3 linked regions of the Homo sapiens genome follow. The protein of the gene in region 1 purifies or fractionates together with the protein of each later gene. This does not show direct contact. Each region holds a gene or a part of one and is shown in the gene's direction. Other genes may lie near its edges.

Evidence for each region.
Region 2: the proteins of ZNF708 (region 1) and OCM2 purify together in Homo sapiens (affinity purification with mass spectrometry; one large-scale study listed by BioGRID and IntAct). This does not show direct contact.
Region 3: the proteins of ZNF708 (region 1) and TOR2A purify together in Homo sapiens (affinity purification with mass spectrometry, with the first as the bait; one large-scale study listed by BioGRID). This does not show direct contact.

The regions. Positions count from the first base shown.
Region 1 is NC_000019.10:21,322,722-21,326,439, reverse strand, and holds part of ZNF708 (zinc finger protein 708), read left to right. Parts: intron 1-3,718. UniProt on the Homo sapiens protein: May be involved in transcriptional regulation.
Region 2 is NC_000007.14:97,987,383-97,991,537, reverse strand, and holds the start of OCM2 (oncomodulin-2), read left to right. Parts: upstream 1-1,341; 5' UTR 1,342-1,433; coding exon 1,434-1,494; intron 1,495-2,989; coding exon 2,990-3,122; intron 3,123-4,155.
Region 3 is NC_000009.12:127,732,495-127,736,608, reverse strand, and holds the start of TOR2A (prosalusin isoform a precursor), read left to right. Parts: upstream 1-1,314; 5' UTR 1,315-1,338; coding exon 1,339-1,489; intron 1,490-2,044; coding exon 2,045-2,310; intron 2,311-3,048; coding exon 3,049-3,224; coding exon of another isoform or gene 3,225-3,393; exon of another isoform or gene 3,394-3,835; coding exon of another isoform or gene 3,836-3,917; coding exon 3,918-4,045; exon of another isoform or gene 4,046-4,114. UniProt on the Homo sapiens protein: Salusins -alpha and -beta may be endocrine and/or paracrine factors able to increase intracellular calcium concentrations and induce cell mitogenesis. Salusins may also be potent hypotensive peptides.

The DNA.
Region 1 (3,718 bases):
AATAATAGTCTCTAGTCTCATCCAGGTTACTGCAAATGCTGTTAATTCATTTTTTATGGCTGTGTAGTATTCCATTGTATATATATACCACAGTTTCTTTATCCATTCATTGATTGATGAGGATTTGGGTTGGTTCCATGATTTTGCTATTGTGAAATGTGCCACTATGAACATGCGTGTGCAAGTATATTTTTCGAATAATGACTTCTTTTCCTCTGGGTAGATACCCAATTGTGGGATTGCTGGATCAAATGGTAATCCTACTTTTAGTTCTTTAAGGAATCTCCACAGTGTTTTCCATAGTGGCTTTTCTAGTTTACATTCCCACCAGCAATGTAGAAGTGTTCCCTGTTCACCACGTCCATGCCAACATCTACTGTTTCTTGATTTTTTGATCATGGCCATTCTTGCAGGAGTAAGGTGGTATCGCATTGTGGTTTTGATTTGCATTTCCCTGATCATTAGTGATGTTGAGGATTTTTTCATATGTTTGTTGGCCATTTGTATACCTTCTTTTGAGAATTGTTTATTCATATCCTTAGTCCACTTTTTGATGGGATTGTTTGTTTTGTACTGATTTGTTTGGGTTTGTTGTAGACTCTAGATATTAGTCCTTTGTCAGACGTATAGATTGTGAAGATTTTTTCTCACTCTATGTGTTGTCTGTTTACTCTGCTGACTGTTCTTTTTGCCGTGTAAAAACTATTTAATTTAATTAGGTCCCTGATATTTATCTTTGTTTTTATTGCATTTGCTTTTGAGTTCTTGGTCATGAAATCCTTGCCTAATCTAATGTCTAGAAGGGTTTTTCCAATGTTATGTTTTATAATTTTTATAGTTTCCGATCTTAGGTTTAAGTCCTTAATCCATCTTGAGTTGATTTTTGTATAAGATGAGAGATGAGGATCCAGTTTCATTCTCCTACATATGGCTAGCCAATTATCCCAGTACCATTTGTAGAAAAGGGTGTCCTTTCCCCACTTTATGTTTTTGTTTGCTTTGCTGAAGATCAGTTGGCTGTAAGTATTTGGGTTTATTTCTGGGTTCTCTATTCTGTTCCATTGGTCTATGTGCCTATTTTTAAACCAGTAACATGCTGTTTTGGTGACTATGGCCTTATAGTGTAGTTTGAAATCAGGTAATGTTATGCCTCCAGATTTGTTCTTTTTGCTTAGCCTTGTTTTGGCTACGCAGGCTCTTTTTTGTTCCACATGAATTTTAGAATTTTTTTTAATTCTGTGAAGAATTATGGTGGTATTTTGATAAGGATTGCACTGAATTTGTAGATTGCTTTTGGCAGTATGGTCATTTTCACAATATTGATTCTACTTATCCATGAGCGTGGGATTTGTTTCCATTTGTTTGTGCCATCTATGATTTCTTTCATCAGTGTCAGGTGTATTTTTTATGGCTTGGTAATTTCCAATAAAATTTCAAGGCTGTTTAAGAATGCTACCAAGAAAAAGAATAGGGGAAATGTCTTTCCCATTTTGGCTGTAGAAAATGAGTACATTTTCACAAGAAAATGTGGTAGATAATTGCTGAGTTACATAGATTCATGAAAGCATCAGCTCCTCTTTTTGCAGGGTAAATTTGTGACAGTGAATATCTCTGTTCAAATCCTGTTATCTTGATTTCCTAGTTTTAAGCTAAATTTTATTTGAAACTTGGTACCTCCTAGACATGTTTCCATATGACTAATTGTTTACTATATGACTTTTAATGGAAATAATAAAATAATGCATTTATTGTTTGAAAGGAATGGACACTTTTGCTTTTCTTATTGAGATATGAAATATAAGCACCCTAAAATTTTCTTCTCTTATGTCAACACTGTGTTTGAGAAACTGCTGGATTTTTTTTTTATTTTTTGAAATGGAATTTCTCTCTTATTGCCCAGGCTGGAGTGCAATGTCATGATCTCGGCTTACTGCAGCTTCCGCCTCCTGGGTTCAAACTATTCTCCTGCCTCAGTCTCTTGAGTAGCTGGGATTACAGGCATGCACCACCACACCTGGTTAATTTTGTATTTTTAGTAGAGACGGGGTTTCTGCATGTTGGTCAGGCTGGTCTCAAACTCCTGACCTCAGGTGATCTGCCCGCCTCGGCCTCCCAAAGTGCTGGGATTACAGGCGTAAGCCACTGCGCCCAGCCAAGAAACGCTGGATTTTTTAAACACTTAAGTTTATTTTTTTTTGAGACGGAGTCTTGCTCTGTAGCCAGGCTGGAGTGCAGTGGCGCGATCTCAGCTCACTGCAAGGTCCACCTCCCGGGTTCACACCATTCTCCTGCCTCAGCCTACCCAGTAGCAGGGACTACAAGTGCCCGCCACCACGCCCGACTAATTTTTTTTTTTGTATTTTTAGTAGAGACAACGTTTCACCATGTTAGCCAGGATGGTCTTGATCTCCTGACCTTGTGATCCACCCGCCTCAGCCTCCCAAAGTGTTGGGATTACAGGCGTGAGCCACTGCGCCCGGCTAAACACTTAAGTTTCAAAGACCAAGTGAATAACTCTTGACATGGAAATTAAAGCTTTAGCCCACTGGCTCAGAGCTAAGGCTAATATTGAGCCTGCAAAAAAATTTTATTAAAGGCCCAGTTAGTTTTTTCTGGGGAGTCTCCTCTGTAGATATCCCAGCCTGCTCACCCCAGCCATAGAAGTCTTTATCCTGGGAGAAGCTACAGAGCCCTGGAAAGCTGGGGACCCACAGGTGGATGCAGTTGATGTTAAAATGAAAGGGGATTGGGAGGGTCTTACTGAAGATGAAGTTGTTCTTGTTTTGAGGCAGTTTATAGACTTTGAAAATAAAACAAGGTTGAATTTACATAAAAATTTTGACTTCCAAAGAAATATTGCAACAGAAGTACCAACTACAAGGTCTTTAAGAATTGCAAAGTTCAGGCAGACAAAGGCTTCCTTTCCTAAGGAGGAACAAACAAGATTAGAAAGGAGGTGGAAGGGGAATGGCAAATGCAGGGTGAAAAAATCAGATTTTAGATCAGAGAATGTTTCACACTGAAGTCAGCCTGTTCTTTGGAGTTACATAAAATGGGTTTGTAAAGTTCAGAAGCCTTGGGGAAAAAGACAAACTTAAGTAAAGTTTCCTTAAGAAGTATTTTATTTTCACCACTGAAGTCAAATTCAACTGATTTTTCAATAAGAAAAAAAATGTGCAGAGTCGGTGTCTGCTATGTGATAGATAAGAAAAGAGAGCACCATCTAAGTCATAATGGGAAGGGTGTTTCTTTCGATAAACTGTTCCTGGAGAACACAAACAATGAAGAATTTTATTAATCACAGTTATTTATCTGGATTGTCTATGTGTGTCATCTTTCCCCACCTTTCTTTGTTCTATACATGTCTGCCATTTGACTTTTCCTGGGTTGTATCTTTTATAATAAACTGGTAAATATAACTACAGTATTTGCTGAGTTCTATGAGTAGCTTTATCAAATTATTGAACTTGAAAAAGGTTATGGGAGTCCTCAATTTTTAAACAGTAGCTCAGAAATGTAAATGGGCCCATGGAGTTTGTGCCTGGCATCTGCCGTAAGGACAGTGTGGGACTGAGTCAGGGCCTGTGCTGACACTGGGTGGTGTCAGAAATAAAATGTTAGACAATGAGTTAGTGTTAGAGAATTGCTTGGTTTTCAGTAAACTGCAGATTTGGTGCCAGAAAAAAGATACGGGGGCCTGACCTGGAATAAAACTCTG
Region 2 (4,155 bases), on another chromosome or scaffold:
TCTTCAACTCCAGATTGAGGTCAGCCTTACACATCCATAGTTCCCAAAGCTGAAAACAGGCCTGCCTCCAACGGTACCTGCTAACATCTGGGGAGCTTTTCAGCTTACAGAGCACCCTGTATGTGTTTGTCTTAGTTCAGGCCACCATCTCCAGCTTACCAGGCTCTAGAACCTTCTCCACACTTTGCCAACAGGGTTCGTTTGCAGAATTGAAACCTTAGTTAAGGTTTGTTGAGGTTGTTGTTGTTGTTGTTGTTTTTACAATTGGCTATTCCCACCCACATTCCCTTGAGACATAAATAGAAAAAAAAAAGAGGTTTCCTGAGTAGGACAAGACATTTGAGCTGCATCCACTTGATCCTTGAAAAGGAAATCTAAGAGGTTGTAACTATCACTTTTTCTAGCCTATATAAGGTAGGTCAGTAAGGTAGCAAAAGCACATCTGTTGTTTTGCTCCTTCAACTCTTTTTCCTGATTCTTCCTGGGGGAAAACCTAAAACGGTGAGTAACTGGTGGACCCATCAGACCCCAGACTCTTCTTCACTGCATGCATTCATATTAGGCTCAGGTGCTTAGACTCCTGTTTTCCCATGGCTCTGACATCTGGAAGGATTTTAATCTCTGGGAGATGGGCTTTTCATCCATCTGCTTCCCACCTTTCAGGACAGGTAGCATGTCTTCTTCCACAGAATGTCTGCAAGCAGCCCAAACTGTATCCTTTCCCACGTGGAATTTGCAACAGTGCATCTCTCGGACTGCTGTAGGAAAATGCCAGTGCATTTGTAACATGGTTTACGGCTGCCTATGCAAATGACTGATTATGTCAGTATAATTTTTATAAGAAAACAATTGAATCCTTCTTTGGGTCATGTTTTTTTTTTTCATTTTTGGCATATATTCAAAAGAAGGCTCTGAGACAAAAAGGGCTGGGGTCTTTTTGGTATCTGGTTTTAATTTGGATATTCTGTCCCGTCACTTAATACAAAACCATGCTTATCACATTTTAAAAATTCTAGACAGGCCTGGCTTGGTGGCTTATGCCTGTAATCCCAGCAGTTTGTGAGGCCAAGGCAGGCAGATCACATGAGGTCAGGAGCTCGAGACCAGGCTGGCAAACATGGCAAAACCCCATCTCTACTAAAAACACAAAAATCAGCCAGGCCTGGTAGTGCGCACCTGTAATCCCAGCTACTCGGAAGGCTGAGGCAGGAGAATCACTTGAGCCCAGGAGGTGGAGGTTGCAGTGAGCCAAGATTGTGCCACTGCACTCCAGCCTGGGTGACAGAGTGAGACTCCATCTCAAAAAAAAAAAAAAAAAAAATCTAGACACACATACAGTTTCAGTGGGCCTGGGAAGATGTGTTTCCCCTGGATGTGCACGTTCCTGTTTGTGGCTTATCGCCTCTCGTTTATTCTGTGTGAGTAGGTAGAAAATGAGCATCACGGACGTGCTCAGTGCTGATGACATTGCAGCAGCGCTCCAGGAATGCCAAGGTAGAGGGGACGTGGGGCGGGGGTGGGATTTCCTCACAGCTTTGCCCCTCCAGCGAGGCAACACAAAATCAAAATGTAGGCCAGGCGGCCAGACGCAGTGGCTCACGCCTGTAATCCTAGCACTTTGGGAGGCTGAGGTGGGTGGATCACGAGGTCAGGAGTTTGAGACCAGCCTGGCCAAGATGGTGAAACCCCATCTCTAATAAAAATACAAAAAAATTAGCCAGGCGTGGTGGTGGGCACCTGTAATCCCAGCTACTCGGGAGGCTGAGGCTGAGAATTGCTTGAACCCGGCCTTTTTTGTAGACTCTGTCTACAAAAAAAAAAAAAATGTAGACCAGGCATGGTGGCTCACATCCGTAATCCCAACACTTTTCGGAGGCCAAGGTGAGAGGACTGTTTGAGCCCAGGAGTTTGAGACCAGCCTGGGCAACATAACAAGACTCCATCTCTACAACATAACAATAAAAATAAAAACTAGCGGGGCATGGTGGCATGTGCCTGTGGTCCCAGCTACTCTGGAAACTAAGGTAGGAGGATCACTCAAGCCCAGGAGGTTGAGGCTGTGGTGAGCTATGATCGCTACACTGCACTCCAGCCTGGACGACAGAGTGAGACTCTGTCTCTAAATAAATAAATAAATAAATAAATAAATAAGTAAATAAGAGCTTGGCTGGAAAATTCATGGAATCAGAGAAGAAAACTACTATTTATTAGATAACTAAAATTATAGAGATCTGGGATCTGAGCACACGATTACACTTCTGTAAGACAAAAGAAACCTACTAAACATGAAAGCAAGAAATCACTGAAGGGCCAGGTGTGGTGCTCACACCTGTAATCCCAGCACTTTGGGAGGCCAAGGCCGGTGCATCACTTGAGGTCAGGAGTTCAAGACCAACCTGGCCAGCCTGACAAAACCCTGTCTCTATTAAAAATACAAAAATGAGCTGGGCATGGGGGTGCATGCCTGTAATCCCAGCTACTCGGGAGGCTGAGGCAGGAGAATCAGTTGAACCTGGGAGGCAGAGGTTGCAGTGAGCCGAGATCACGCCACTGCACTCCAGCCTGGCGACAGAGTGAGACTCTGTCTCAAAAAAAAAAAAAAAAGAAAGAAAGAAATCGCCAAAGGCCATTTAGCCTGTTGAAATCCAGTGATTGCATTTCCCCCTACCAATTAGACCAGGGATGTTGGGGGCTCGGCCACACAGCCTGTAAAGTGGGCCAGGGGGAGGGGGAGGCACAGAGGAGAGGAGGAGGGAAAAGGAAAATGGACAAAACCAAGTGGAGGAGGGAAGACCGGGGCGGAGGGGACATGGGATGCCATCACAGAGCCATCAAGTCTTGGCTGTCCCAAAATCTTAGACCAGTTGAGCATCCCCGTAGCTCAGGGATATTGTTGAAGTGTTTTTAATCATCTGTGTTTTCAGTACCTTGGCCCCAACATAGAATGTGATCCAATGAGTGTCAGAATAACCCATTCTCTGTTCTTCAGACCCAGACACTTTTGAACCCCAAAAATTCTTCCAGACGTCAGGCCTCTCCAAGATGTCAGCCAGTCAGGTGAAGGATGTTTTCCGGTTCATAGACAACGACCAGAGCGGGTATCTGGATGAAGAAGAGCTTAAGTAAGCTTTGTCCTGAGGCTGTCTGGTACCTGGCACTGCTGGGTGGGCCTGGGGTGCAGTGGGGGCCAGGTTGCTCAGTATTTCTTCAATGGCCAGCCTTGGTGTTGGTCATTCGGCCAAGCATCATTAAAGCAAAGGACATGAGTCAGTTGACCGCACATCTACCCATGCAAAGCCCTCAACATGGGCAGTGAAGACTACAGGTGCAAAGATTCTTTTTTTTTTTTGAGACAGGGCCTCACTGTCACCCAGGCTGGAGTGCAGTGGGGTGATCTCAGCTCCCTGCAGCCTCCGCCTTCCAAACTCAAGTGATTCTCATGCCTCAGTCTCCCAAGTGGCTGGGATTACAGGTGCTTGCCACCACATCCAGCTAATTTTCATATTTAGAGTAGAGATGGGGTTTCACCATGTTGCCAGGCTGGTCTCAAACTCCTGACTTCAAGTGATCCTCCTGCCTTGGCCTCCCAAAGTGCTGGGATTACAGGTGTGAGCCACCGTGCCCAGCCGCAAAGATTCTTTCATGTAAGGGATTTCCTTTGGCAAATGGACTTTAAAAAACTAAAAACTTGGCTAAGCGCGGTGGCTCACGCCTGTAATTCCAGCTACTCAGAAGACTGAAGCACAAGAATTGCTTGAAATCAGGAGGCAGAGGTTGCAGTGAGCCCAGATCGTGCAGCTGCACTCCAGCCTGGGTGACAGAGACTCTGTCTCAAATAAATAAATAAATAAATAAAAATTAAAACCACTAAAAACTTAAAAATGGGCCAGGCACTGTGGCTCACACCTACAATCCCAGCCCTTTGGGAGGCTGAGGTGGGTGGATTGCTTGAGTGAGCCCAGGATTTCAAGACCAGTCTGGGCAACATGACAAAACCTTGTCTCTACAAAAAAAAAATACAAATGTTAGTGGGGCATGGGGGGGTGCACCTTTAGTCCCAGCTACTCGGGAGGTTGAGGCAGAAGGATTGATTGAGCCCAGGAAGTTGAGGCTGCAGTGAGCCATGATGGTATCACTGCATTCCAGCCTGGGTGA
Region 3 (4,114 bases), on another chromosome or scaffold:
TTCTCTCTCTTTTCATCCTTTCTGTTTCTCCTTTCCTTTCCTTTCTTTTTCTTTTTGAGATGGAGTTTCACTCTTCTCACTGCAACCTCCGCCTCCCGGGTTTAAGCGATTCTCCTGCCTTAGCCTCCAGAGTAGCCAGGATTACGGGAGCCTGCCACCACGCCCGGCTAATTTTCGTATTTGTAGTAGAGACGGGGTTTCGCCATGTTGATTCACGCGCCTCGGCCTCCCAAAGTGCTGGGATTACAGGCATGAGCCACCGCACCTGGCCGGAAATACTTATTTCTTTTTCAGGCTCTGATATTTGGCCCCAGAAGTCGTGTGTGTGTGTGTGTGTGTGTGTGTGTGTGACTATGTGTTGAGGTTGGTAGGGACAGGGTCTTTGAGGTGGGCCATGAAGGCTGTTGTCTTGGTTCCCTTACTCCAGTGGGTGGGGGAGGTGGGCAACGTGGATCAAAACGAATCCAGGCCAAGCTGGAGGCCTAGGGAGCCTGCGCGCTGAACCTCAAACGTCTGGAGTCCTTTGCCTTCTGAATCCTTTGACCAAGAGAGGCTGATAACATGCAACCACGCACTACGGCTCTGGTTGCAGCCAGACTTGGGTTTAGTTCTATTGTTTACCAGCTGCGTGACATTGGGTAAGAGGCTTAACCTCTTCGGTCCCAAATTCCTCCTTATTAAGATGGGGACAACAACAGAACCCATCTCCCAGGACTGATACCAAGCATTTGGCCACAGTTGCTGCTAGGTGAGGGACAGTCCTGTTTAATACACAACGGAATGTTGATGATCATGTATTGACCACTTTCTGAGCCAGACAATTTGTGTGCCTTTATCTCATTGGAACACCACCATTTCTCTGGATAGCAGATACTATTACCATATTATAAGGTATATAGGCACTTAGCACTAATGGCACAGAGTAAGTGCTCACCAAAAGCTGTTAGTGAGGGCACTTTTGTCATATAGAAGAAAAAAGGAGCATGGAAAAGGCGCTTTGCAAGGTGTAAGGTTCCGCACAAGTTTTTGCTGTAATTGTTACGTCGCCCTTTGTGGTCGTGATCCTTTATTTATTCTTTCTGAGCCACTACGATGGTCCCCTAGTTACCGTGGCCATGGAAACGCGGCCCGCCGTCCCGGATTGGACGGTTCGCGGGTTCCCCCTGGAGGCCACCTTCTGGTCCTGCTGCGGAACGACGGGCGGGCCTTGGAGGCGGGGAGAGGAGCGTCGGGAGTTGTAGGCGATGGGCGTGGCTGCTGCGGAGCGGTGCACGCCGGGAGTTGCAGTTCCCGGGCGAGGCAGTTGACTGCCCCACAACGAGCTCGGGCCTCACCCGGATGGCGGCTGCGACGCGCGGCTGCCGGCCCTGGGGCTCGCTCCTCGGGCTGCTCGGGCTGGTCTCGGCCGCGGCCGCCGCCTGGGACCTGGCTTCCCTGCGCTGCACCTTGGGCGCCTTTTGCGAATGCGACTTCCGGCCCGACTTGCCGGGTGAGGCGCCAGGGAGCCCGGAGCGAGGGGCGGGCGGACGCGGGCAGACGCGGGAGCGCTGGGAGCCCTGGGAGCCCGGCTGGCGCCGGCCAGAGAAGCTGAGGACCCAGAGGGTGGGACCGAGGGGCGGGGCCCGCAGACTTGGGAGGGTGGAGGGTACCCGTTGAGGTCCAGGAGGCCCTGCCAACCTGGAGAGAGGCCTCAGCCAGCAGAACCCTTGGTGGAAGTTCTTGGGCCTCCCCGGAATGGCCTGGCCGTCAAAGGAGAAGTGCAGTGCGCCTTGGGGATGGGCGGGGTCTGCGGCTGACCCCGTTGACAGCTCGCATTTAGAGCTGAGTGCAATCTAGAGGACCGCCTGGTGGGGGCGCTGCCGAGCTGAATCAGGCCCGAAGGTGGCTCTTTTCCGCCACAGACCCCAAGGTTTGCGTGCCATGTGCATAGGCAGCTTGGACAAACGTAAGGACACAGGAGTCCCAGACCAGGTTCCAGACATGATGTTCTCCTTGAACCTCTGCCTCGGTGGGATGTGTCCTCACCATCCTCCTGTGGCCCTAGGTCTGGAGTGTGACCTGGCTCAGCACCTGGCCGGCCAGCATCTGGCCAAGGCGCTGGTGGTGAAGGCGCTGAAGGCCTTTGTGCGGGACCCAGCCCCCACCAAGCCGCTGGTCCTCTCCCTGCACGGCTGGACCGGCACCGGCAAATCCTATGTCAGCTCCCTGCTGGCGCACTACCTCTTCCAGGGCGGCCTCCGCAGCCCCCGCGTGCACCACTTTTCTCCCGTCCTCCACTTCCCCCACCCCAGCCACATCGAGCGCTACAAGGTAGGCTGGATGCGTCCTTGACCACTGTTCTCACCATGGGGTGCCACCCTAGGGAGTAAGTCCTGAGCCCAGACAGGGGAGTCACCTGCTCCAGGCCACACACGGCTGCAGCCCCAGCCCTCAGGACCCATCCTGCACAGAACTTGGGAAGGTGTCATTCTACCTGGCAGGGAGTACTTTGATTCCTTGGGGCAGTAAGGAACCCTGGCAGTACCTACATGCCAGGGTTGTTGTGAGGGACATGAGATTATACCATTGCAGATATCATTTATGGAGCACCTATGTTTGTCAGATAATCTGCACTGTTGTCTTGCTGGAAATCAGCCCCAATTTGTGGCTCAGAGGAAGCATCAGGAAATATTGGCTCTTACTACTACTGTTGTTGATTGCAGGGTACCCACCAGGCTGATCAGTTTCAGCCGTCAACACTGCTGTGTAGTTTCAGGGAGCAGGAAGGAGCCTTCCCCTTTTATAGAAAGCAGCAAGTGTCGTGGAAGGAGCTCTGAACAGGGAAGTGGGAGGCTTGGGTTTGAGTCCCTGTTCTGACTGGCTGTGTGACTTTGGGCAAGTCTCTGCCCCAATCTGGGATACAGTTTCACCATCAGTCTCACTAAGAGGTTGGTGCTCTCTGGAAGACCACATCCTTCCCTAGAAAGGAGATTAGTTTTGGTTTGGGAAGAGGTCTGGTGTTGGGGGAGTTTCTCCAGCTCCCCTGGAACTCCTGTCTCTCCCCTACAGAAGGATCTGAAGAGCTGGGTCCAAGGGAACCTCACTGCCTGTGGCCGCTCCCTCTTCCTCTTCGATGAGATGGACAAGATGCCCCCAGGCCTGATGGAAGTCCTGCGGCCTTTCCTGGGCTCCTCCTGGGTGGTATACGGGACCAATTACCGCAAAGCCATCTTCATCTTCATCAGGTGGGGCCCGGCTTTGCAGTGGGCACAGTGGGGGGGCCACTTCTCAGAGGTTCAGCTCTACAGCCTTAGCCTGTGCTCCCAGCAGAATCCAGTTCCCCATGGGCTTAGCTGGGCTTTCCCAGTGCCCTCCGCCACTCTCAGAGATGACATTGTCATTCCGCCTGGTTGATTTCCCTTTGGACATTCTCAGCAAATTCTGGGCTCAGTCTTTTTGATCGCCACTTCTTTGTGGAAGCCCTGCCAGGTCAAGAAGTTTTCCCTCTTTTGTGGTGAGGAGGACACAGGCCTGGGAAAAATAGGAACAGAGTTCTTGTCCTTTAGTCCCAGCTCTCAGAATCCTCGCTGTGTTTCCTCAGGCAGCATGGCTCCGCCTCTCTGAGCCTCTGTCTCTGCTTCTGAACAGCGGGGCCAATAATGATGCCCCGATGCCTTCCTGGAAGTTCAGTGAGGGAAAGTCAGTTGAGGGACACAAAAGTGTTTTGTAAACTATAAAGTACGTGGCATGTGTAGGTGAATTACAGGGGCCATGGATGTGGACACCATGGAGGGGGAAGTGGAGCGTTTTCAGTGGAGTTGGCTCCTCCCCGCACTGAGCCATGTTCCTATGTCAGGTGGCAGCGGGGAAGCGAGGGTCCAATCCTGCCCTGCGCTAGTCCTCATCTGAGTCTCAGCCTGGGTCCCCCATGGTTTTAGCAACACGGGTGGCAAGCAGATCAACCAGGTGGCATTGGAGGCGTGGCGCAGCCGGCGGGACCGCGAGGAGATCCTCCTGCAGGAGCTGGAGCCGGTCATCTCCCGCGCGGTGCTGGACAACCCGCACCGTGAGTCTGGCTCAGCAGCCCCCTCCCGGGCAGCTTCACCCCACACCCAGGGGCCAGGCTCTCCCGGGG